4 separate regions of the Homo sapiens genome follow, and all the other regions are linked to region 4. The links come from fine-mapping of genetic effects on gene expression. A gene starts in region 4. Each other region holds a variant in brackets. All regions are shown on one strand. Distances are between the middles of the regions.

Region 1 (5,000 bases), 49 kb after region 4:
ATTTGAGAAGAAAGAACTCCAGTTTGAGGCATACACACAGACCAGATGGTATTCAGTATGTCCAAAATACAAAGAGAAGGTTGGAGGTTTTATAAAAAGACAGAAATGTTACATATTGCTCTTTGAGAAAGTTCATTGGCACTAGTAAGTTTCTGGGGAGCTGGCAAGTTTTGACTGGTGAGTGATGGAGGTGGGTAAAATTAGTCTTCAAGTTGCAGCAGATCATTTCAGCAACTATAAAACTGGTTTCAGGTAATAGCAGGCAGTTTCAGCAACCAGGCCTGCAAAGAATATTTTTTTTGAGACAGAGTCTTGCTCTGTGGCCAGGCTGGAGTGAAGTGGCGCTATCTTGGCTCACTGCAATCTCTGCCTCCTGGGTTCAAGCGATTCCCCTGCCTCAGACTCCCGAGCAGCTGGGACTACAGGCGCACACCACCACGCCTGGCTAATTTTTTGTATTTTAGTAGAGACAGGGTTTCACCATGTTGGCAGGATGGTCTCAATCTCTTGACCTTGTGATCCGCCCACCTCGGCCTCCCAAAGTGCTGGGATTACAGGCGTGAACCACCATGCCTGGCCTCAACTGCTTTTTCCTGGTGGCTTCTTGACTCTGTTTTAGTTGGGTACGACAAGAATGACCCAATTATGTTATCAAATTTCACAATGATTAAGAACACGGAGTAAGGGTTTGAAACTTTATCTCACAGCTTACTAGCTACATGACTTTGTCTGAGTTAGTTAACCATTCTGTTCCTCAGTTTCCTTATCCATAAAATGGACTTAAAGTAACTTATAATAGCACCTACCTCATATATCCCATAGGCTTGTTATGAGGATTAAAAAAGTTAGCATTTGCAAAATGTTTAGAGCATTCCTGGCACACAGTAAGTGCTGCATAATTTCTTGCCATTGTAATGAAATTACATCTCAAACAACAGCATAACATAGCACAGTAGCCACTTTAGAAGACTTGTTATTAATATAATATCCCAGGTCTTTTTTATCTACTTTGATCAAGAGGTTGTGAATGTCAAGGTTGAAATAAGGAAGAAGGGTGTAGATGATGTTGTTAGAGACGCAGAGTGAGATATGAGAAAGTAATGGGTGCCAGGAGTTGGTTAAGGGGGATTCAGGGGGAGGGTCTGAAGGCCTGGCACATGTACAGGTATATGATAATGTAAAATCAGTAGGAACTTTAAAAAAAAATTAATTGCCATCCTTCCTCCAAATATGAAAGTAGAATACTGTTTCAGAATGACCTAGTTAAAAATGCTACTAGACAGCTCAATTTTATCTTACCTTAATGTCTCCAGGAACAAATAGATTAAGAATTACCGTCTCTAAGAAAGACCTAAAAACAAACAAGAAACGTATGACCTATTCCAAGTTGATGAGCTAAAGTTTACTTGGATGAACAGAGGTGATATTTCTCTAGTTCTGACGCATCCTTGAAATGAAGAGAGTGCATTCTGACAGGAATCAGATGCCGGGTCCAATCCTCAAAGCAAATCTCATCTTCTTAGTGTCACCTTCATATTAAAAGCACACCAGGAAGAAGCCAGGTTGGCTGGCAATGGAGAGGCCTCTGGGGCCTCTGGTCAGACATGAGCTCCGAGGACTGAGCTGTGCTCAGGTCTGAGGGGCAAGTAGATATAGGGAGGCAAATAGGAAAATGACGTGATTTCATTTCCTTTGAGTGTATTTTTCAGAATACAAAGGCCCACTCCCTCTCAAAATTGTACAGATGTCTGCCATGTACTTGCATTCAGACTTTTCCCTTTCCGAGGCATGTGGAATACTGAAATACTTCTATCTGCTCAGCTACCAATGTTTCTGCCATTCCAAGGGAATCTCAAAATGAGTCCTTCACTTCTGGATGTACATTTAAACTAGTCTCTAGGAGTGATCCACAGACCCACAGGCCCTCTACATCTTGAATAACTTGAGTTTATTTATTTAAAATGCATATTCCTGGGTCCCACCCACGTCAGTCCCTCTGAATTATTATAGAACCTAATAGAACCTTTGGATGTACGGCCTAGGAATCTGCAGTGAAACATGCTCCTGTGTTGGTTTTTTTAGTACCCCAAAGTTTGAGAAGTATTGCATCTTTTCTGGGATGCTTATTTTTTAAACCCTTTTTCTCACTCCTGGGGCAAAAGGCTTTGGCAACCACCAACTCATTACTGATAACAAAGCAGCAGCAATTAAGAAAGGATGGATTCGAGGTTTCAGCTTGAGGGTCATGAATTACAAAGAAGAGCTTTGAGGAAGCAGTCTGGTGGGAGGCTACTGTATAAGGGATCTGAATTCCACCTGCTTGGATGTAACAAGCATTGTTCTGACTTAAACTTTTTGGTTGGTTTGTCTGAAGCGGATGAAGGGAGAAGAGAATTGACAGAGGAGCTGTGATGAGGTGAAAGCCTTTCCAAGGGTCCTGTGACACAATCACTGATTATCTCAGTGAAAAGGTCCCAGTTGCTCTCATTAATTCCTAAGTATTTTCTCAAAAGGCAGAAAAGAGGTAGTAGGTACATCTTGTCCCCACAGGAATATATTGTGCTTCTGGTAAGTAATTTTGAAGATAACTACTTTCTTCTCTTGGTGCTTGTAAATACTGGATAAGATGTTTTGATTCAGTATAAGACCATACTATACGCAAGCATTGTGTGTTAGGCGGCAGGGCAAAGGTTCCAAGCCACTATCCTCTAAGCCAGGAGAGACGCTTCGGAGGCCTGTCTTCCTGGCTGCCCCAGGCCGGCACCCGCTGTCACCGGCAGCGCTGACTC[A/G]CTGAACTTCCTGCTGCTTTCCCCAGCAGAGAGGGCTGACTCAGAGTCTGCACATGGGGTCTGCTTCCAAGTTCTTCCAACTGGGCATATGCCTCCGCCACTCTCTGACTGTCCTTTGCCTGTGCCAAGGTTTCTGGGAAGAACAGGAAGTTCAGGGATGGCGGAAAATGTTTGGCAGATTCCCTGAGTCCAAAGCCGGAGCACCTGCTCCTGCCTGAGGGCAGAGAGGACTGGTAAGTAAAGCACTGAGGGCCCCAAAGGGGTGGGGACAAGGTTAAGGGCACGAGGGACCTTCTTGTCAGTTGAATTCTCTACATAAAATCACCTGTAAGAAAAAGTACATGTTCTCAAACTTCAGGGTGCATTACATATTGTTAAAATCAATATTGCTAAAAATTTGGATCCCACGATACCACTCCCAGAGATTCTGACTCAGTAGGTCTGGAATGGGCTCCAGGAATCAATGAGTTGAACAAACTCCTGGAGACTCTGAGGCTGGTGGTCCCTGGCTTGTGCTCTGGGAAGCAATGGGCTTTGAGGCAATCAGTTTCCCTCCAGCTTCTCTTTCTTCTGCAAGGGTTTTTGCCTCCATAGATTCAGTGCTGGCCAGAAGGAAATAAGCGAGAGGGCCAAGAGTGAGGACCAGCACCTCCTTCTGAAGCATCTGGCAATTTCTTGGCTGGCGCTGGTTGAACTAGGTCACATACCTGCTCATCCTTGAACTTCTCTTGCTTTTAAGTTGGACAGTCAAGTTACATTATTCTGAAAAATAACAAGACCAAAACACATGCTGCTGGGGAAATATATATAATTTGATGCTACAGGTTAAATTTCTCAAATTAAAAATAAAAAAGTTTTTGTTTCTGCTTATATGAAAATAAAAATACAACAGTGGAATTCGGAATAATGTCTATTATGCTGAAAAGTCCCTGAACTGGTCTGTGATCAGTTATTTATCAGAGAAACTGCAACAGTCTCTGTTACTTTTGCCTATTGGCTACAAATCTGCTCTGGAAAATTCCAGTCATTCCAATCACCTGCCCTGGGAGATGTCATTCATTCCAAGTCAAGTCAGATGCACAATTCCAGATCCTGGCTGAGTCAAGTGATGACCTTAGTTGTGTGCATATAGTATGGTCTCATACTGAATCAAAACATCTTATCTAGTATTTACAAGCATCAGGAGAGGAAAGTAGTTATCTTCAAAATTACTTACCAGAAGCACAATGATATGTAATAGGAAATTATATACATTCCTCTTAAAGAAACATTACCAAGCTGGTGCTAGAACTATTACGCCTTTGCTCATGCAACAAAGGTTTATTGTGTGTACAATATATGCCAGGCACTGTGCTGGGCACTGGGACTACCCTTATAAGCAGAACAAATATGGTCCCCATACTCAAGGATTAGTAAAATTTACTACAAATCTTATCTTAAATTAATCATTGTCATAAACAAGCACAAATATATTTACAGTTAAACTTTACATCTCTGCATTGCAATTCTCTCTCTCTAAAATAAATAGTTTCTGTCTGTATTTAGTAGTTCATAAGAGTAGTTATAAGACAGTAACCTCTGAGGAAAAAAACACCCTTTAATTTTCTTAAAGCCTTGGAGTCTTTTTTTTTTTTTTTTTGAGACACGTTCTCACTCAGTTGCCCAACCTGGAGTGCAGTAGCACGGTCATAGCTTACAGTAACCTCAAACTTCTGGGCTCAAGCCATCCTCCTGCCTCAGCCTTTTGAGCAACTAGGACTACAGATGTGCGCCGCTGTGCCTGGCCAATTTACTTATTTATTTGTTTAATCCCTTTTTTTCCTTTTTTTCTTTTTTGATACAGAGTCTCACTATGTTGCCTATGCTGGTCTTGAACTCCTGGCCTCAAGCAATCTTCCCACCATAGCCTCCCAAAGGGCTGGGATTTCTGGTGTGAGCCACCACACCTGGCCTGCCCTGGAATCTTAATGTAAAGATTCTTGACTGTCTTCTATGACTACAGGGAGCCTGATGAGACTCCACTGGAATTTTCAGTGACACTTATGGTTAACAGACATTAATATAACCAAGCAAGCCACCAGCTGTCAATGGATGTTGAGATAAAAGTTCTAACTTCAGATGCTCTGGCTCTAAGTCTAGCCCTATAAATGGAACTCAGGTCTGGGTCACTTACTGCTTAAAAGCCAAACAACTCAGGAACTTTGGTAAAAG
Region 2 (8,051 bases), 62 kb before region 4:
CTCATGGGTAGGAAGACTCAATATTGTGAAAATGGCCATACTGCCCAAGGTAATTTATAGATTCAATGCCATCCCCATCAAGCTACCAACAACTTTCTTCACAGAATTGGAAAAAACTACTTTAAAGTTCATATGGAACCAAAAAAGAGCCTACATTGCCAAGTCAATCCTAAGCCAAAAGAACAAAGCTGGAGGCATCACGCTACCTGACTTCAAACTATACTACAAGGCTACAGTAAACAAAACAGCATGGTACTGGTACCAAAACAGAGATATAGACCAATGGAACAGAACAGAGCCCTCAGAAATAATGCCGCATATCTACAACTATCTGATCTTTGACAAACCTGACAAAAACAAGCAATGGGGAAAGGATTCCCTATTTAATAAATGGTGCTGGGAAAACTGGCTAGCCATATGTAGAAAGCTGAAACTGGATCCCTTCCTTACACCTTATACAAAAATTAATTCAAGATGGATTAAAGACTTAAATGTTAGACCTAAAACTATAAAAACCCTAGAAGAAAACCTACGCAATACCATTCAGGACATAGGCATGGACAAGGACTTCATGTCTAAAACACCAAAAGCAATGGCAACAAAAGCCAAAATTGACAAATGGGATCTAATTAAACTAAAGAGCTTCTGCACAACAAAAGAAACCACCATCAGAGTGAACAGGCAACCTACAGAATGGGAGAAAATTTTTGCAACCTACTCATCTGACAAAGGGCTAGTATCCAGAATCTACAATGAACTCAAACAAATTTACAAGAAAAAAACAACCCCATCAAAAAGTGGGCAAAGGATATGAACAGACATTTGTCAAAAGAAGACATTTATGTAGCCAAAACACACATGAAAAAATGCTCATCATCACTGGCCATCAGAGAAATGCAAATCAAAACCAAAATGAGATACCATCTCACACCAGTTAGAATGGCGATCATTAAACAGTCAGGAAACAACAGGTGCTGGAGAGGATGTAGAGAAATAGGAACACTTTTACACTGTTGGTGGGACTGTAAACTAGTTCAACCATTGTGGAAGTCAGTGTGGCGATTCCTCAGGGATCTAGAACTAGAAATACCATTTGACCCAGCCATCCCATTACTGGGTATATACCCAAAGGACTATAAATCATGCTGCTATAAAGACACATGCACATGTATGTTTATTGCGGCACTATTCGCAATAGCAAAGACTTGGAACCAACCCAAATGTCCAACAATGACAGACTGGATTAAGAAAATGTGGCACATATACACCATGGAATACTATGTAGCCATAAAAAATGATGAGTTCATGTCCTTTGTAGGGACATGGATGAAGCTGGAAACCATCATTCTCAGCAAACTATCGCAAGGACAAAAAAACCAAACACCGCACATTCTCACTCATAGGTGGGAACTGAACAATGAGAACATATGGACACAGGAAGGGGAACATCACACACCGGGGACTGTTGTGGGGTTGGGGGAGTGGGGAGGGATAGCATTAGGAGATATACCTAATGCTAAATGATGAGTTAATGGGTGCAGCACACCAACATGGCCCATGTATACATATGTAACAAACCTGCATGTTGTGCACATGTACCTTAAAACTTAAAGTATAATAATAATAATAAAAAAATTAAAAAAAAAACTTAAACCAAATCTCTCTTCCTTCAAGAAGAGTACCTAATCATAGTTTGAATGATCTTGTCTTCCTCAAAATTCCTACAGTGCTGTGCCACTCACTTAGTCATTATCTTCACACTCTAGCTCACAAGAACCACGGCCAAAGCCACACTTCACATTTCATAAAGGAAGACAGTATCTTCCTTTAGTTTTTTCCACGATATGCATCACCTTGGTTTCTGGCCCCATTCCCACAAGCACAATATCCTTAAACTTTGTAAACTGTTCTCTAAATCTAAACTATAATTATTTTACTAAAGATACTATAAATCCACTTTAATTTGATATCCCCATTTGTTATCATTTGATGATATCTGCACATATATATGTGATATATAATGCAAGCACAAATTTTAAATTCTACAATAAAAACAGTTATATGCTATATTTAAAATGAGGCATGACACAGACCTTAAAAATAAGAAAACTGCTATGATTAAATTTAACTCTCCATATTTGGGGTGGAAGGATCAGAACAAAAATACTTGGGTATTTGTAGAATTTAAGAATGTAAATTCTTTCCCTAAAATTCAGAGGCCACCGTGCTACACGTGTGGCTTGAGGGAGCGAGGTGGACGTGTGGCTCACAGAGCAAACATATGACTAGGAACCCTCCAACAAATGGTCACCTAAACAACAACATTCTGTAATCTTGCTGAGACCGTAACGTGCGTAACAGGGAATAGAAACAAGCACACAATTCCTACAACAGCTTTAACACAGACCTATTAGTTCATCTCAACCAGTCTTTTCCTCTTCTGGCTTCAAAATAACCCTGACAGCAGTCAGTTATGCTTTCTATGAGCTCTCTCAGTCTTTCCAGTCCCCTATATTGATCTGGCTCTAAGCACTTAATAAGCATCTTTCTCAAAAGCTTTCCAAGTCATTTTTTAAACAGAAGCCAAGACACAATTATGCCACGGTTTTAGGCAAAACCTTTCGTCTTTGCTAGATGTTTTAAGCACTGTTGGTTTCAGTCATTCCTCCTTATAGGACTGGATGGAAAACAAGTCTGCCCTGCTATGAAATGTGGGAGTCTTATCTCTGAAGATTTGTAATTCTCAAGTAAGACTCACATATGAAAGACAAAACTGATTATTTATTTAAGTGAGAATCCTTTATAAACACAATATGAAAAGAGAGATCTCATCAAGTCTTTTTGGTACACAGTTTTCATGATCGATAAGACTTAGTCTAACTCAGTACCTTCCCAAACTATTTTTGATGGTCACCCTCAGAGAGAAGTATTTTATACAGAAACCCAGGACACATGGCTACACATATACGTGTAATAAAAAAAATTCTACTTATGACCCACTAAACTGATTTCACAATCCACTAATAGGTCACAATATGAGGTTAAAAACAAAAACAAAAACAACTCCGGTTTCTATCTCTAGTTTACCTGGATCTCTATCATATATGTATATTACTGTATTGGGTTGGTGCAAAAGTAATTGTGCTTGTTGCCATTACTTTCAATGGCAACAAGCACGATTACTTTTGCACCAACCTATAATTAAAAGGGCTCTCCTTTAATGCTAAATCTGAAATACTATATTCCACACTGTCTCAGGAATTTGTCTTTGGGCTAGGCTACACAGACGCTTAAGAGAAATCTGAGGGAAATATAACTACATTTAAAACCAGAAAAACTAAATAACTGCAACCCATAACATTTCAAAAACTCAGTCACTTTCACAGTTCA[T/A]GCACGTAAAAACCTACTTTGGTCCTCCGCATTCAACTGCAGAAGCTTTCACAAACCGGATAGGTTGTAATCCCACTGGTTCAATGCTTAGAGTATTGTTTTCCACAGCCTCCAGAACAGCTGAAGCCAACTTAAAAAAAAAGAAAAAGTACTAGATGCTATACTGGCAGAAAAATATCAAAATTGTATTCTACAGTAAACGAATTTTATAAATTATTCTTCTCCAAAGTTCCACTAGCTTGGCTTTAGCAAATGAAAAAGGAAGAAATCAGATAATTTTGGTTTGATTTATTTTATAATCCAAACACTGTTATGAAAGGCAATTCACTTATGGTAAAATAACTTTCCTCATTATCTGGACGAGGATTCAAGGCATCAATTCCAGTCTCTGTTCACTCCTTACCCACGATTAATATCCACAGTTAATGCCACTTCAAAATGAATATCCTAAAGCTTTATTCTGCTAAATATATACAATATTTTTAAACATTGGTCATTTATACCACAGCAATATATATTAATTAGCTGCATATTTTCTGAATTTGTATTTATGTGCACAAGAGTGAGTCTACAAAAGAATTAGCTGAATTATCAAATATTAAATGCCCAGATGAAGACGGTAGCAACTAACACCAGATGAAACAGGAAAACCTCTTTAGTCTGGCAAGGTTACTAATACTGAATGGCCTACCTGAAACCAGATACAGAGCCACAATGAACAAGATATATTCATACCAAAAGTGTGAAAAATGTTCATCTTAACTTCTCCTGGTAAGCAACGTTATAATTAAATGCTTGAAAGACTTAACATAAAACTCTTAGGATTAAATTTCTTATACTTTAATTGACCGGATATTTGTAGACAAACCTTTCACATGTAAGAACAAATTAAAATTACAGCTTTAAATTTTTATACTGCCTTATTTTTCTAAGGTTTTTGCATCTACTTAATCCACTTCATTTTATCCTTTTAACAATCCTGTGGCACAGGCAAAGAAGGCATTACTTTTCCTGTTTTAAAGATAAAAAATTAGATTTTTAAATCATGTACAGATAGACACAACAAATGCCTTTAACAGAGTGTGTAGAGAACTTCCCTTACACTGAACCTTGGACTGCAAATCAAGAAATAAGTCCTATCCCCCATACCTATTTAATACCTGACACCAATGCAGTACACATTTGAGTGTGAATGATCCTCTGCTCATATAAGAAAAGATGTTCAGTAACTGAATGCCAAGAAATTATCATGATTCTAGTACGGAATGGCAAAAATAGCAAAACATGACATTTTATAATAACTTATTTATGTAAGAGATATTAAAATATGTAATATGATTTAGTTTAAAAGAAGTACAGAAACAACTATAATGAATTCCTACTAAAATGAAAAAAAATTACCTCACTTTTTGAGAATGTTAAACATGGAAAGATATCTTCCTGGTAGATTTTGTCTAAGAAAGGACACGTCCTGTCCATTGTGGGCTCATCCTTCCACAATCGGAATTCATTATACAAGGATAAGTCAGCCTAACAAACCAAAGGAAAACACAAAAACATGTTTTAAAACGTATAAACATAAAAACCGCTTTACAAAACCAAAACTAATTTAAACATCACTGAAAAAAAGCTCTTCATTTAAAATAATAAATTGAACCACTCTTGGTGGTTCAATACCTGGTAGCAGTTTTCCTTTTTAAAAAATACTCTCAAATAATACCTGGTAGCATAATACCTGGTAGCAGTTTTCCTTTTTAAAAAATGACTCTCAAATAACCAATTAGCCTTTTTCCAAGCATCATTCACTACCATGTTCAATAACACTACTATTATCCTCACTCTGAGCTCCTTCTCCCATCCCCACCAAAAATGCTGGAGTTCCTCTTAAGACACAGGTGGCACACTATTCAGAATATAATAAATGATGACAAGTCTTTTCTGAAAACAATAAAAAGGTAATTTGGAACCTAATTAATTATAGTGTCTGAATAAACTGAGACTGGCTGAACTGTGAAACCTAGTTTGGGATCAAAAATGACACTAATTGTTCTACTATAACTTGAAGGCATTCCAAAAAGAATTGTCAAAATGTTATTGCATAACCAACAGGATTAAAAAAAAAGAATACGTAAAGCCTTCTAAACTACCTTAAAATACAACATTTATTTAGATATTTTTGACATATTTTTGGCACCCAGTAACTACCATCTTAGGCATCAATAATAATCCACTGCTGGCACCTGCCTTCCTATTCACTCCTCCAGCTATCCCTCTCTTTCTCACCTCCCTAATAAATTTTCCCCAAGTATTCTTCCCTACAGATTCTCAGATTCCCTCAGTCCAGCTCAATAGCATCTGCTGGAATACAAAGTTGCACTGACATCAGCCACCCAAACTAGAGCAGTCTCCCCCATCCTACAGCTCTAAGCTGCTCTTCTCCAGAGGCACTGGATACACCATAAATGATGCACTGACTACAGCTACAGACTGCCTCTAGGATAGCTCAATCAGATGTGCAAGTAGTCTACAAAAATGTAACATAGAGCTGAGTGTAGCCAAGCCTTCCTACAGACTTCCTTTTAAGGTGTATAAGGGCAATCTCCATGTGAATATTTTTTTCAGCCCAATTCATAAATTCCTTGAATCAAAGCAAAAGCAACAGGATAAATAATATTAGCATATAAGCAATACTTACATTTTCAAATGCATTTTCTTTGTAAAGTTACTGAGAAAAAGGACACTTCCTCAATTCCATTTATCTTCTAAATAAGACTCTTTAATCTTTGTTCCTAATTCACTTACCTCCTGGCTCTAATAAGAGATGTCACATCTCCAATTTAACAGTCTGTTTAATATTAACTTCTCAAATGTATTTGTTCCCAACATATATTGATTTATATGAGCACACACTAATGACCTAAGTCTGTTACTCTTTCTTAAGAAAGATGCAAATTTATTCCCTATTTAATAAATGGTGCTGGGAAAACTGGCTAGCCCTATGTAGAAAGCTGAAATTGGATCCCTTCCTTATACCTTATACAAAAATCAATTCAAGATGGATTAAAGACTTAAATGTTAGACCTAAAACCATAAAAACCCTAGAAGAAAACCTATGCAATACCATTCAGGACATAGGCATGGGCAAGGACTTCATGTCTAAAACACCAAAAGCAATGGCAACAAAAGACAAAATTGACAAATGGGATCTAATTAAACTAAAGAGCCTCTGCACAGCAAAAGAAACTACCATCAGAGTGAACAGGCAACCTACAAAATGGGAGAAAATTTTCGCAACCTACTCATCTGACAAAGGGCTAATATCCAGAATCTACAATGAACTCAAACAAATTTACAAGAAAAAAACAAACAACCCCATCAAAAAGTGGGCGAAGGACATGAACAGACACTTCTCAAACGAAGACATTTATGCAGCCAAAAAACACATGAAAAAATGCTCACCATCACTGGCCATCAGAGAAATGCAAATCAAAACCACAATGAGATACCATCTCACACCAGTTACAATGGCAATCATTAAAAAGTCAGGAAACAACAGGTGCTGGAGAGGATGTAGAGGAATAGGAACACTTTTACACTGTTGGTGGGACTGTAAACTAGTTCAACCATTGTGGAAGTCAGTGTGGTGATTCCTCAGGGACCTAGAACTAGAAATACCATTTGACCCAGCCATCCCATTACTGGGTATATACCCAAAGGACTATAAATCATGCTGCTATAAAGACACACGCACACGTATGTTTATTGCGGCATTATTCACAATAGCAAAGACGTGGAACCAACCCAAATGTCCAACAATGATAGACTGGATTAAGAAAATGTGGCACATATACACCATGGAATACTATGTAGCCATAAAAAATGATGAGTTCATGTCCTTTGTAGGGACATGGATGAAACTGGAAATCATCATTCTCAGTAAACTATCGCAAGAACAAAAAACCAAACACCATATATTCTCACTCATAGGTGGGAATTGAACAAGGAGAACACATGGACACAGGAAGGGGAACATCACACTCTGGGGACTGTTGTGGGGTGGGGGGATGGGGTAGGGATAGCATTGGGAGATATACCTAATGCTAGATGACGAGTTAGTGGGTGCAGGGCACCAGCATGGCACATGTATACATCTGTAACTAACCTGCACATTGTGCACATGTACCCTAAAACTTAAAGTATAACAATAATTAAAAAAAAAAGAAAGATGCAAATTTATTAAAAAAAAAAAAAAAAAAAAAAAGAAAGAAAAGAAAAAGGACATAAACCCCAAAGCAGGTAAGTGGTATTCTAAGGAAAGATTCTAGTTTAAAGGCTGTAATTTAAACCATTTATTAAGAGCTGACTCTGCCAGGAACCACCGTAAGCACTTTACAAGCATTTAATCCTCACAACTGTGCAAGACAGATATTATGATTGCCATTTGTAATTTGCCGGAGATTGCATAGCAAGAAAGCAGTAAAGTCCGAATTCAAATCTAAGTGGCTTGATCCCAAAGCCTTGCACTGGGCATGTATGTCTGCATGCATGCATGTGTATTTTAAATGTTTACAGAAGACATGTTGCTAATGTCATAACTGAGTGCCCCATCATATTTTCTACAAAAACACGGACATGCTTAATTTTCTTCCAGATTGTTACAT
Region 3 (6,337 bases), 74 kb before region 4:
AAGGAAGGAAGCTACTGTGTAGTTTGAAAATTACTATTTAATACATTCTGCTAACCCTAAATGCCATGTCAGAGCTAGAAGAGAAAATGTACACACATTCAATCTAACATTTATTTATTTCAGGTTTTTTTTTTTTTTGGCAACTATAAATTACATTCACTAGTACACCTGGAATTCTTCATAGTGTGTTCAACTAAAGAATAAGCAAACACAGCATAGATCAGTTTAAAAGAAATCATGGTACTTCTTAGAGCAATTTGCAAAAGGGGAAAAAAGTCTTAGGCTCACTCCTTGGAAATAAATATCAAGTAACCATAAAAATATTCAGCCATTTTTCAGTTATTCGGGGAGTTCAGGCATGGTCCCACGCAGAGCATCAGAGTTCCTCTTTGAAATAACCCAGCTTTGCCAATGACATCTCTTTTCTCAACTGCATAACCTCCCAAAACATCTGATCAACTATACAAACAGAAAAGAGAGATATTTAAATCATAAAATACCATCTTCATTATTTTTAATGTTTCGCTGAAAACCTTAGCTGAAATGTCAATTGTGCATTTCCTAAAGATGTACCTACATTTTTTCAATAATTCACATAAACTTTTCCACAGACTTGTGACCATCCCAGTTTTATCAATAAAGCAAAAGTCACCAGTTTTGTCACAATTATTTGTTAAATACATCAGAGACTATCATTTTAGCCCAAGAAAAGGTAGACATTCAGCATCCTGAGTAAATGTCAATGCTGTTACCTTCATTAAGTGAATATACTCAATACTCAATTATTCGAGCTATTCTCTAACTTACGAATCTTCTTGCTCTAGTTTGTTATATCGCGGCCATTTTACTCTTCATTAACACTACCAGAGGGTGAAGGGCAAAAAAAGAAAACAAGACAATCCAGAAAACTCAGTAACGTTGTGAGAAGTAACAGAAAGGTTTTGTGTATGGCTCAAATTAGAAATAAAAATGCATGTGGAAGATGAATTGTAAATTCAATTACCTATACTTTTGTAAGTTCCCACTGTAAGTGGAAAAACGTTGGCTCCTTATTTCAGACAATAAAAGGTCTTCGTTTGATATATGATCAGATTATATTCATTTAGATCAATGGTTCTCAATCAGGGAAGATTCCACCACTACCACCACCACCACTCCTCATTCCCTGGCCACTCCAGGGTACGTTTGGCAATGAATAGAAACATTTTTCACTGTCCCATCTCGGGGGTGCTACAGGTATCTAATGAGTAAAAGCTAGGGATGCTATTAAACATCTTACAAATGCACAAGACCGTCCCCCACAACAAAGAATTATCCAGCTCAAAATGTCACTAGTACCAAGGTCGAGAAATTCTGCTTTAGATTTAGCTGCCCTAAATCCTTTGTTGGCACAAGGCACATATAATAAACAGATTTTAAGACTAATACCTGTTTACAACAAACACACATACTAAATGATATGTACTAAATATCATAAAGTGGAAGAGTGACAGAAACCAGAGAAGATATACTACTTTTATTATCAACACCCTCACCATTCATTACTCGTAACACTTTCTTCCTATTTTCATAAAGTAAATTATCTTTCTGTCTTTCCAAGCTTCTTATTTAAACAAACAGAAAAATATTATATTCTTGGCAATTATACTTAACATAAATTTTCTGTTCTCTGGCTTAAATTATATTATCCATCAACAGGTATTCAAAAAGAATTCAGTTTTATTAAAGTCAAAAAAAGTATTACACAGTTTAAAGACTGTTTTTATGTTATTAGGCCTTTTGAAATTCAACATTAATTAGGTTATCAGGTTATTAGGTTAACAGGTTTTATCTCTAATGTTTTAGGCATTAAAATCCAACTATATGGGATTTTAAAGAAATATGACATTTTTCAACATACCAGACCTTGAGAAAGGCTAAACTAAGTTTTTATCAGCGTGACTAACTTCTCCATAGAATTAAGATTCACTGCTTTACATGATTGAAAGATGGTAGGCTTCTACCAGTGTTTAAGCAAGATAATATTTTCAGTGCCTAAAAAATATAAACAGGGAAATTTTGTAAAACTTTAAATACTAACTGGCACAGACTTGTCCCTAGCCTAGTATCTGCTATTTTTTTTTTTAAACTATCATTTGTGCTCGAGAGATACTGCTTTGGAGCTGTCAGGCCATATTAGTTTTCATGCCTGATATTTAAGATATTTAGCTATAAAATTGTATTAAAAATATTAACACACTTTCATGA[G/A]GTTGGTTCTCCTGGATATATCACCTGCACATTTCTGCTGATTTAGAATATGGCAATCTTTATTCCATTCAGAATTATCCTCATGACTGCTTTATTAATTCACACGCAAAAAGTAGAAAATACAGGGAAAACTTAATTTTGAGCTCCATGATGGTTTCCATCAATTAAAATAAATCTGACCACTTTGCTGGCCTACTCATTTTCATCTCTTAAAGAGTCAATTCAATGAGCTTAGAACTCTCTTCTCATTTACCATCTGGTTTATCATATACCCCTTATGAGTTAAAACTGACCCTGCTTAAAATTCAAAATTAAGAGTAAAATGAGGCAAATAAAATAATTAAACACAATATTTTTCTAAAAGACATTTGTTCCCAAATTCTCCACAAATTTTATTAGAACTATAGAAGGGATTCAATATAAATGTACCAACAATAAAGCTGATATGAGCATTACTACTATTCTATACTTTTTGTTGAACTTTACTTATACTTTTTGCTGAACTTTTATGTAAAGACTTATATTGAATCAAGAACACTCACCATCCTGCTGTTTCACGAGTCCCTGCTGAATGTATCGAATGTATGTAAAAAAGTTACATACAGAAGTGATCTAGGCCAAATGGAGAAAATGTCATGAATGGTCAAATGTCCCATATCAAAGCAAGCTTTATTAAAATTCATGGTTAAGTCACTTACCCTGTATCTGCAAAAAGGAGAAATATAATAATAGTTGCTTGAGTCCCCTAATTTAATTCTGTGTTTACAGGACTTACTCTGGCCAGTGAGAGCACATTTTCTGTGAAATAATGATAAATTTCAGTTTTTTGAAATGAAAAGCATTTGCCCCTACCTTCTGTACAAGTTGCCTATTCATTCAGTTAGATAACAAATATTTGAGAACCTACTGTGTACCAGGCACCGTTCTAGATGCTGGGCTAAAGTGATGAAAAGGACAAAGTCTCTGCCCTTGTGAGACTTACATTCTATTAGTAGTATAAGTTTAATGCCATAACATTAACCATGATTCTAGAAACAGAAACTAGGTGTTTTCCATGTATGTCCCATCTTGGAACAAATTTACAAATCAGTAATCAGCTGCAGGACAGCTCTCAGCTTTCCATCAGGATTTCAGCTTCTCAGCTGAAAATATCCTCATGATGACTGTTCAAGTCTCAAAGCATGTTATTGATAGCTTGCAGGGTAATAGTTTCCAGATGGGGTATTTGTTTATTTGGTTGGTTGGTTGCTCTATATGCATTTAATGTGGGACCTAGGGAGAAGTACAAAGGAATAAGCCACCTTATAAAAATACTGAATCTTAACAATCATGTAACAAGTTCACTGAATTTCACATGATCCTTTCTATTTGCATATGACAAAAGCTAAAATTTTATATGAGGGCTTTCTGGCTGGGATTAGGCTATCAACCTCTTGAGGGCAGGGACTTTGATTCATCTTTAAATGCCTGGCACACAGCACACATTCAATGACTGCTGAATAAGTAATGAGCCATCTGTTACCCTATGGCTCCATGAGATAAAGCTAGCATGTCTATCAGGCCGGACTTGCAGCAGCCCAGCTGTCACCCTAAGCTAGGAACCTGGCTCAATACAACTATCACTCCCCATCAATGCAAAATTAGCATAGCTCTAAGTAAGTGGCAAACAGCATTTTATATGACAGTATAAATTATATAGTAAATATATTAAATAACATTACATTTTAGCGATACAAGAAATATAATACAAAAGTGCCTTTGTATTAAGAAAACACACAACAATGTGTATTTGAAACAGGATAATTTTTGAGGAGGGGGCAATTCAAATCACAAATCAATTCCTGTCTTTTTTCAAATAGATATTTCTTCATTGTTTCTTTATTAGCAAATTCCTTTAATGATCTGTAACAATATTTAAAAGCACTAACTACTAGCTTGGGGAGGATAGAAGATACAGAAATTTAAAGCACAAAGTGTTGGAAGTCTGTGGAACTTCCAAAAGTATAATTTGCATAAGAGGAAAATGTGCCATTAAGCTGCTAAAAACCAATTTATACACTATTCTTCTGGAAACAGACATATGCCTGCTGGTCTACTGTTTAGCCTAATTTTGAAAGGGATCTGGTAAGGTGGCTTTAAGTATCAACTTTTAAAATAATAAGTGTTTCTTTTTTTTAACTTGTAAGTTCAGGAGTACAACTGCAGGGTGTGCAGGTTTATTACATAGGTAAACATGTGTCATGCGGGTTTGTTGTATATATTATTTCATCACCCTGGGTGATTCAGGAAGAATAAGTATCCATTATTCTTCCTGATCTTCTCCCTCTTCCCATCCTCCACCCTTCCACAAGCGGCAGTGTGTGTTGTTCCCTTCTATGTGTCCATGTGTTCTCATCATTTAGCTCCCACTTATAAGGGAGAACAGGCAGCATGTGGTTTTCTGCTCCTACATTAGGTTGCTAAGGATAACGGCCTCCAGCTCCAGCCATGTCCCTGCAAAGGACATGATCTCATTCTTTTTTATGGCTGTATAGTATTCCATGGTGTATAGCGTTTCTTAAAAGATCTCATTTCTAAGCTATTTTGTAAACTGGACACACCTAATGTATTTTTAGTTAAGCCAGGATTCAATGCAAACAGACCTCTGACCTCCAACTCCATTTTTTTCCCAAACATGCTACACTACATTAATAAATCTCTATAACTCTAGTCCCAAGATTTCAAATCCTTGTTTCCCATTTTCATGTGAGGATGTCAATATGTCTAAATCTAGACCGTAATCCTCTTCCACAAATCAAAGCCTTTTCCATTAATTTCCACAATCACTTCAAATCAGTCTTCCAGTCAGATATCTCTAACTCCTTTCTCCTTTACCCATCCCCCCACCCCAATCTAACTTTTCTTTCTTAAAATGTCACATCTTCCCTTTCCTCTCCATACACTGACCATCCTTTGAACGCACTTTGATTTGTTTCTAGGCCTTCAGTTGTTATGTATTGCTCTTTATCCAAATTACCCTTATGCTTCAAAAACCTAAACCAGTTTTTATTTCTGGAGGGTGGAGCCAAGATGGCCGAATAGGAACAGCTCCAGTCTACAGCTCCCAGCGTGAGCCACACAGAAGACGGGTGATTTCTGCATTTCCAGCTAAGCTTTGAAGAGAGCAGTGGTTCTCCCAGCACGCAGCTTGAGATCTGAGAACAGGCAGACTGCCTCCTCAAGTGGCTCCCTGACCCCCGAGTAGCCTAACTGGGAGGCACCCCCCAGTAGGGGCGGACTGACACCTCACACTGCCGGGTACTCCTCTGAGACAAAACTTCCAGAGGAACGATCAGGCAGCAGCATTTGCGGTTCAGCACTATCTGCTGTTCTGCAGCCACCACTGCTGATACCTAGGCAAACAGGGTCCGGAGTGGACCTCCAGTAAACTCCAACAGACCTGCAGCTGAGGGTCCTGACTGTTAGAAGGAAAACTAACAAACAGAAAGGACATCTGCACCAAAAACCCATCTGTACGTCACCATCATCAAAGAACAAAGGTAGATAAAACCACAAAGATGGGGAAAAAACAGAGCAGAAAAACCGGAAACTCTAAAAATCAGAGCGCCTCTCCTCCTCCAAAGGAACGCAGCTCCTCACCAGCAACGGAACAAAGCTGGATGGAGAATGACTTTGACGAGTTGAGAGAGAAAGGCTTCAGAAGATCAAACTCTCTGAGCTAAAGGAGGAAGTTCGAACCAATGGCAAAGAAGTTAAAAACCTTGAAAAAAATTAGACGAATGGATAACTAGAATAACCCATGCAGAGAAGTCCTTAAAGGACCTGATGGAGCTGAAAACCATGGCATGAGAACTACGTGACGAATGCACAAGCCTCAGTAACCGATGCAATCAACTGGAAGAAAGGGTATCAGTGATGGAAGACAAAATGAATGAAATGAAGCGTGAAGAGAAGTTTAGAGAAAAAAGAATAAAAAGAAATGAACAAAGCCTGCAAGAAATATGGGACTATGTGAAAAGACCAAATTTACGTCTGATTGGTGTACCTGAAAGTGACGGGGAGAATGGAACCAAGTTGGAAAACACTCTGC
Region 4 (8,051 bases):
GCCCTATATTCTAAGATAAATCAGATTACTTTTTCCACTTTTCTCTAACCATGACTATGTACGATGTAAGCTTATAAAACTACCTCATTTAGTGGTAAGTTGAAAAGGAAAGCAGAAGGGAAAATAGAGATAGCAAGTTAATGCTCCCAGTTGTATAAATATCTTCCTCTTCCTTCCTTTGTCCCTTCATTTCTCAATGTTCATTTCAATTTCTACTGCTAGAGCAGCTTCAAAACATCCTAACATTCTTCAACTGATCATCCATCACCAAACACAGCACAGTACTTACCTGGCCCGATGTTAAAGCTATAAAATGAGGTAAGCCCTACTCTCGAAGCACTTGTAGACTAGAGGAAGAGACCACCTTGCCAATAAACATGTTTCTAGGGCCCTAGAAACAATTACAAATACAACACAAATATCAAAGTTCATAAATACCAAAAAAGAGGTACTCAGTATTATAAAAGCATAAAATTTTTAAAAAGAGTACCATCTGGTACAACTAAGGATAGTAGCATAAAAAAGGAGAAACAAGCTAGAAAGCAGTTTACAAAAGCTCAGATATTTTGTTTTTAGGATATCAAATGCGTAGTAACCAATTTACTATCCTTTGATGAACTGCATCTTAATCAGAATTATATCGGAAAAAAGTTTAGTGTGAAAAAGCGTACTCCCTTGGAATATCTTCAAAGCTTTCCCTCATTACCTCAATGCACAAATATCTCTACCCACTATCCATCTGTCCTTCCTCTCCACTACTCAACTATCCTAGCACTTTGTCTTAGTTGACATTCATTAAAATATGTAAAGTGCGTTCTACATTTTGAAGAACTTATAAAAGATATGGGAATGATTATAAGGCCCTACCTTCCATATTCCTTAAGAACAGTTTCCTTTAACCCCTACTGTGACTTGCAGAGTAGATGCTCAATGAGTATTTGATTTAAAAAAATCTCTGGTGACACAATGAGAATTACATATTACATTAACATTACGTATCTCATAAAAGCTAAATTACAAAGTTCTTCAGCATTATAAGCTACACATAAAGAAGTGATAATGTAGTGATTATGAGCAAACAATTCTTTAGCATTACCACTTATACATGAAGAAATGACAGAGTGTAGTGGTTAAGAGCACAGACATGGAAGACAAACTGTCTGACATCTAATCTAGACCTGTCACTTAATTAACTATGTGACGTTGAGCAAACTACATAAGGTCTCAGGGTCTCAATTTTCTCAACTACAAAATAGGGATAAAGTATTATCTCCTCGCTCACTCTGAGAGTAAATGAGTATAAAGCTTACACCAGGACTTCGCTTGATAAGCACTAGACTTAAAAGTAACTGTAGTAGCAATGCTGGTATCACCGTCTTCAGAAAACTTGGATATTTTTAAACCAGAAATACAAATGGTAACACTTGTCATCTGTGTGCCTCCTTATAGTTACAAAGCTCTTTAATAGAAGGTGCAGACCAGGAATGTAAGAAACAAAAGCACTACGTTCCATTTTGGGCAGTCGGATACAGTTTTTAATACCGGCTCTGTCACTGGCCAGCTGTACGACCACCTACAACTAAGTAACCATAGACAAATTATCGCAACTTTCTAAGCCTCCATTTCCTGACTTGTAAAATTTGATAAACCACCTATATCCCGGGAATGTCCAGAGGACTGAGGAGTCAAGGTATCGAAAACAAGCACACACAGTGCCTTGCACACAATCAAGCTCACACTGGTTCCTTCTCCCCTTCCCCACATCTCTAATGGAGTATGTTATTAAATCCTCATCTTACCATTATGAAGTTCATATTAGGTTGAAACATAAAAAACAGCAGAATATTAGCAATTTCAACCTAATAGTATTTCCACTGACAAATGGAGAAAATAAGCTCAAACAGGTTAAATGTTTTACTCAAGGTTTTATGCACAGTAAGTGATGGAGCTGAACATTAAATAATTTTTCATTCAGCCAGCTCACTAATTTGTTCACTGACTCCTGTTGAGGAGGAAAAAAGTATAGTAACTACTATAATGCATATAAAACTACTGTAATCTACAAAGTATTTTTTCGTGCCATATTTAAAAAATGAGGGGGTGAAACATTTCTAAGAACCTTTCCATTTTAAAAATTATTTGTAGAGGATGTGTGTGTTGGGGGAGGATGAGAGTTTAGACAAAATCAAAGGTAAAGAATATTAAAGGAAACATATGGATAACTGCACTAATTCAAAAAGTACAATAGGATCTATTCAGAAATCCCACAAAGCAGCTAAACATTAAATGGCCATCCTGGTGAAAGATTACAAGTATTCAGTACCACAGATGAGTTGTTTACCAAACACAGAAGGAAGAGTTGTATCAAACACTTTGGTTCACAAAGGTATACATTAATATGTAACATTACTGTAATGGAAAAAAATGCAATGGCTTTTCATTTAATAGTTAAAAAATGGACTACTTAATTGTATAACTGTTTATTTCTATAAATTCCACAAGGGCTTTAGGATTAGATCACATAAGCCGCATCTGGAATACACTGTCTGTCCAAACATGAAAAGTCCTATCAAAATGCACAGTACTAGTAAATAAATAACAAATGATAACAGAACAAGGCCCCATAAAACTGGTGAAATATTTAACAGTATCAAATATTTACTACGATTGGTCTACAACCCTATTCTGCCTCTTTTCTCCTTGATTTGTCATTCAGCACTGGAAGAAAAAAAAACCTTCATGAACAACAAAATGAGAAAAAGGATAATGAACAAGAACTGGGTCTTTCAACTGATTTACAATGGAACAGTTTTGTTGTAATCCTCTTATGGGCCCCTCCTCCAATTATGCAATCATTCCACTGCAAGAGATTACAAGGCTTTTAACCCGACACTGAACGGAAGGAGTTGGGGTGAAACAGGAGAGTGTATAACAGGTAGCCTCCGAACAGGCAACATTTCCATGAAACTAAATTGCCTCTCAGTAATCAGTACTAACTAACTCAGCGCTCGTGTCTTTCAAGACCTTACCCTTTCATCTTTTTTAATCCCATAACAACCGGCAACTCTTCACATGCTGCGACTTCCACCCAGCATCATCACTTCTGGAGCCAGTAAGCTCGCGCTTCCTGGGCGGTCGGGGCGAGTTGTCAACGCTGGGAGGGCAGAGCCATGCAATCCCACCCGTGCAGTTCGTCTCAACTCCCCCGAACACAAGTCTGGCGGCACGGAGCTGCCTACTTGGGCGCGACTCCGGGCGCCTGCCCGGAATTTCCCACCAGGTTTCACCGAAACCTCCCGAGGGTGACCTCTACGCCTCAGCACGGTGCCTCGCGCGTAGTTTCCTAAGACTGGGACACGAAACCACCCCAGGTCCACAGCCCTGCCGCGCGGCGTCCGGTGTTGTGAGCTGCTTCCGACTTGTTCGGGAACTCTCTCTTCATCCTCTTCGCGACCGCGGCCCTCCGCTCCCGGCCGCGCCCGCCCGCCGCCAGGTAACCCGCTGGACTCGGGCTCCCTGCCCCGGGCGCGCGGGACCGCGCAGTTAATGTGTAACGCGCCCGTGCCCGGGGGAGGAGCCGCCGCCCGACGCCCACCAGCAGCCCAGGGGGCGGCCGGCTGACCCGGGTCGCCAAAGTCCCCCCCACACGCCGCCCCCAAGGGCCCGGAGCCCAAGTGCCCAGGCGGAGAGCGAGCTCACCGGGCCTGGGCATCCCCCCGAACCCCCGCGTGCCGCGCCCTGCACGGCGCCAGCACCTGCACCTGCCGCGGCCGCCCCTCCTGGCCGACTCGCCAGAGGCGGGCGCGCGGGCGCCGAGGGGGGCGGTGCTCTACGCTCCGGGCCTCTCCCTCCCGCGGCCGCACTCACCTGAAGAACCCACCGCGGCCGCTGCCGGCGCTCAGGGGCGCTCACAGAGCCGCAGAGAGCGCGTCCCGAAGCAGCGAGAAACGGAGGAGGACGGCGAGCCCTTTCCGCTACACTCCACGGCGGCGGGCTCACTACGCCGGCAGCCGCCGAGGGAACGCGGGACTGCGCCTGCGCCGGAAGCGGGGCCGGGGGCCGGGAGCCGGGAGCGGCCGGTCCTCACGGAGGGAGGGCGGGGTAGGGGGGTGTGGCCGGCAGGGGCGGGGCGAGCCCGGCATGGGGCCTGGGGGCGGACGCGCTTCCGCGCCCCCTGGCGCCAGGCGGGGCTCGTCGCAGGTGTCACGGCCCTGGCCCGAGGTTCCTCCGCGGGCGGTTTCCCTGGGAACCAGCGCGAGCCGGAGCTGCGCTCTGTTTCGTCGGGCCCGCGCTCTGTTTCGTCGGGCCCGCGCTCTGTTTCGCCGGGCCCGAGAGGCGGCCTCAGGTTAACTTCAAGCATGTTGGGCTCTCCAGGAGGGAGAAGAGGCACCTTTGCCGTGGGTTGAGGACTCCTAGAACCAACCTGAGACTCCGCGGCCATATACACCTTACGACGTGTGTGTGTGTGGCGGGAGATGGGAGGGGAGGAATCCTGTAGAACCCAGATCCCATCATTCCAGCAACTGCCAGAGCGTTCGAGAATGTCATGTCTGTACCTGTCTTCTCTCATCTTTTGTGCCAACTGTTTTATCAAACTTCTACCCCACTTTAGGTCTTCCAGGTAGGAAAAATACAGAAAGAGCCAAGATCCCAAAAATCAAAAAAAAATAATAATAATAGAGGTAGTCATAGTATGTGTCTCTATGTTTAGCAAAAGAGAAACGTGCATTTGTGTGATACACTTATTGAATAGGACCATCATTCTGGGTATTAATCTCATCTATTAGAGGCAGTAAAGAAAAGTAGACTATATGTATGGTTGTTGGAGTCAGAATTACTGGGCTTGAGCCTGCCACCTGCTAGCTGAGTGACCTTAGGCAAATGAATCTCTCTAGCCCCAATTTTCTCATCAGTGAATGAGTATACAGAACCTGCCTCACTGAGTCATTAAGAGTTTAAATGGCTTAATTCATGTAAACACTTTGCGTACTTCATGACACAGAGTGCCTAATAAATATTAGCTATTGTTATTATACCATTATAACTATTATCATGCATCTGTAATCCAGAAACCTAGAAAGCCAGTGTTTCTTATTTTATACCCCATCGCCAATATATCACCAAGTCTTATTCATCCTAATTTCTAAATAATTCTTAAATCTATCTTATCTGATATTCATTGCCACTAGAAATGACCTTTCTCATTAATGGATTCCTATTCTCCCTTACACCTCATAGCTGGTCATTTATTCATCAGACATTTTATTGCACTCCATCTGTGTGCCTCCTGTTAGACATAGGGACAGAGAAACCATTACAAAGTCCCCACCATCCACGGACTCAAACATATATAGGGAGACAAGTATGTCAATAGTAGCTACGTGAAATGAATAAATTAAATATACAGCAAACCACTTAGGCTCCCCAGTCTTGCCGTACTCACATACAACCCTGTATTTCCATATGCTGTTTATTTTTATGTCTTGATCTCCTACCTTTTCCTTGCCTTGCTAATTATTTGTTATTCATTATTTAGCCTAGACATCAATTCCACTGTGAACCCTTCCCTATTGTTGGCCACTCAGCCCTATCCCAGCCACTCCAGTATGGGCTAAGTGCCCCTACCAGGGCTTCCATAACACCGTATCTCTTTGTAACACTTATCACATAGAGTTATAATTGTATCTGTATTTCTCCATTTTCCTGGACTGCGAGCTTCTTGAGAACAGGCACAAGGTCTGACATGCAGTAGGACTGACTCAGTAAATGCAGAATGAGTGAATGGCATGCATGCAGAGTGCAGTCTTGGTATGTGAATGTTTAGAGGACAAGTCCTATGATATATTCTACATAAGACCTAAGACATCATGATCTATAGGAAATAGTAAGCAGTAACCATATATGCCTGAGTCCTGCGTTGGTCCATTTACAAATCACCTACCATCCATGAGGCTTTTTGAAATATACTGAAAGATGTTCCTCTTGAATACTTAACCTGTTAGCGCTGTTTGAGAAGAGTGATATAGATTGTTACCTATAATAATACTTCAGTGTTCTTGCAGCACAGAGACCAAGATACATTACAGAATATTAGACACTCAGAATCTCAGCCTACAAAGTATGTAAAGGGCTGTGAGCATCTTAAGTTTGATAGCTTACCCATATATAAAAAGGACAGCTATTTCACAAAATTTAAAAATGTGAAAGATTTGGATGGGCACGGTGGCTCATGCCTGTAATCCCAGCACTTTGGGAAGCCAAGGTGGGCAGATCCTTGAGGTAAGGAGTTCGAGACCAGCCTGGCCAACGTGGTGAATCCCCATCTCTACCAAAAAAAAAAAAAAAAATCAGCTGTGCATGGTGGCACACACCTGTAGTCCCAGCTACTTGGAAGGCTGAGGTGGGAGAATCACTTGAACCCGGGAGGCGGAGGCTGCAGTGAGCCGAAATCACGCCACTGCACTCCAGCCTGGGCGACAGAGTGACACCCTGTCTCAAAAGAACAAAACAAAAGGCCGCACGCGGTGGCTCACACCTGTAATCACAGCACTTTGGGAGGCTGAGGTGGGCAGATCACCTGAGGTCAGGAGTTCAAGACTAGTCTGGCCAACATGGTGAAACCCCATTTCTACCAAAAACATAAAAAATTAGTCGGGCATGGTGGCTGGCACCTGTAATCCCAGCTACTCGGGAGGCTGAGGCAGGAGAATCACTTGAACCTTGAATCACTTGAACTCGGGAGGCAGAGGTTGCAGTGAGCCGATCGCGCCATTGCACTCCAGCCTGGGTGACAAGAGTGAGACTCCATCTCAAAAAAAAAAAAAAAAGAGTGAAAGATTTTATAGTGTGCTCAAGGTTGCCTTTTTCTCTTTATTTTTTTCTCTTTATTTTTTAAAAATGTAAATTATACAATTAGTGTCAAATATAACGTATAAAATAATATTGCTTTTTTTTTATCTTAAGACTTTCTCATTTATACCTTGGGCCAGAAAAAAAGCAGATGAGTGCAAATATATAGACATTGTAAATTGAACAAACCATTCTAAGGTTGTTACCCTTAGTTATAACTTTTATTACTTGTTTGCCTCTGTTTTGTTTTCAGAGTTAAGAAAATGTATTTTCATGGTATTTTCCAGTTGCAAACTGACTTCATGTTAATGATTACATGAGTCTTGTACAAAAAACAATTTGATGCAGGTGGAAAGGTAGTTATTCTTCATTTTTGTGGATGGGGAGCTTAGGCCACCAGAGTTAGGGCCCTGGTGTTTGGAATGCAGGTTAATATCTTATAAACGAATGAAGTGAAAACATATTGAACTTTTGTGTCCAGTAGTATGGCAGACTAGAGGCTCTGGCTGATTCTCAAACCCAAAGCAATATATATAAATATATATAAAACATCTTATCAAGCATATCAAAGAGTTGGCAAGAATATAAGAAACCCTGAAGGGCAAAAACTAGGTGTAAGTGAGAACTCAGACTGGTAAATAGTAACAATGCAAAAATGAAATGGAAAAAAAAGACAGTTATGGGAAAAATGTACCAAAAGTAATTAATCTATCATTTCCTTGTCTGCCAAAATAGTCAGTGAGTGCCAGTGCTTGTGTTCTCATAAAAACTGACTTTTGCAACTCCTGTAAAAAAGCAGAGCAATCTCAAAAGTGTCTGTCATGATATTAATTATGGACAATCCTGTATTTCAGGCCCCCTTTCTGATGTTGGAATAAGTGACTGGGAAAAATTGGAAAGCTGAGAGAAAGGGTTTAAGAGAGAGCTTAGACTCTAAAAAGTATGATTCCCCCCTTCAAAAGAATCACTTTAACAAGCTACATATATATAACAAAACGTTTTGAGAATTGACTTTAGATCCAGTTTATCACACACACAAATTGCCATCCATCAAACAAATATTTATTTGTAGCTTCTCTGTGACAACTGTGTAAATAATTTTCAGTAAGAAGGAAGAGAAGGAGAGATGAGACACAGTGAGAGGGCTTCCTGGCCTCCCCTTACTTTTTAATTCCAGCTATCGCTCTATTACTGAGGCTTCC

What was found.
Region 1: its variant is fine-mapped to the expression of RAB3IP in fibroblasts (GTEx, PIP above 0.99).
Region 2: its variant is fine-mapped to the expression of RAB3IP in subcutaneous fat (GTEx, PIP above 0.99).
Region 3: its variant is fine-mapped to the expression of RAB3IP in testis (GTEx, PIP above 0.99).

Annotation. Positions count from the first base shown.
Region 1 is chr12:69,687,092-69,692,091 of GRCh38, reverse strand. All of the region lies in intron 4 of BEST3 (bestrophin 3), which reads left to right. It overlaps LOC105369823 (a long non-coding RNA gene), which reads right to left. Exons shown (of 5, transcript XR_007063358.1): 4 at 3,497-3,551; 5 at 3,016-3,391. Among named protein-coding and RNA genes, the nearest start is that of BEST3, 9.7 kb to the left of the region's middle. RefSeq lists enhancers at 1,872-2,440, 2,567-3,766. The variant A/G (reference allele first, on the strand shown) is at 2,790.
Region 2 is chr12:69,797,078-69,805,128 of GRCh38, reverse strand. RAB3IP (RAB3A interacting protein) reads right to left here. Exons shown (of 11, transcript NM_022456.5): 7 at 4,792-4,920; 8 at 3,408-3,520. Among named protein-coding and RNA genes, the nearest start is that of MYRFL, 24 kb to the left of the region's middle. The variant T/A (reference allele first, on the strand shown) is at 3,391.
Region 3 is chr12:69,809,486-69,815,822 of GRCh38, reverse strand. It overlaps RAB3IP (RAB3A interacting protein), which reads right to left. Exons shown (of 11, transcript NM_022456.5): 9 at 2,946-3,045; 10 at 2,790-2,859; 11 at 1-459. The coding sequence ends at 377. Among named protein-coding and RNA genes, the nearest start is that of MYRFL, 13 kb to the left of the region's middle. The variant G/A (reference allele first, on the strand shown) is at 2,248.
Region 4 is chr12:69,734,848-69,742,898 of GRCh38, reverse strand. RAB3IP (RAB3A interacting protein) reads right to left here and starts at 4,039. Exons shown (of 11, transcript NM_022456.5): 1 at 3,868-4,039. LOC101928002 (a long non-coding RNA gene) reads left to right here and starts at 4,349. Exons shown (of 4, transcript NR_110072.2): 1 at 4,349-4,621. RefSeq lists a silencer at 3,462-4,291.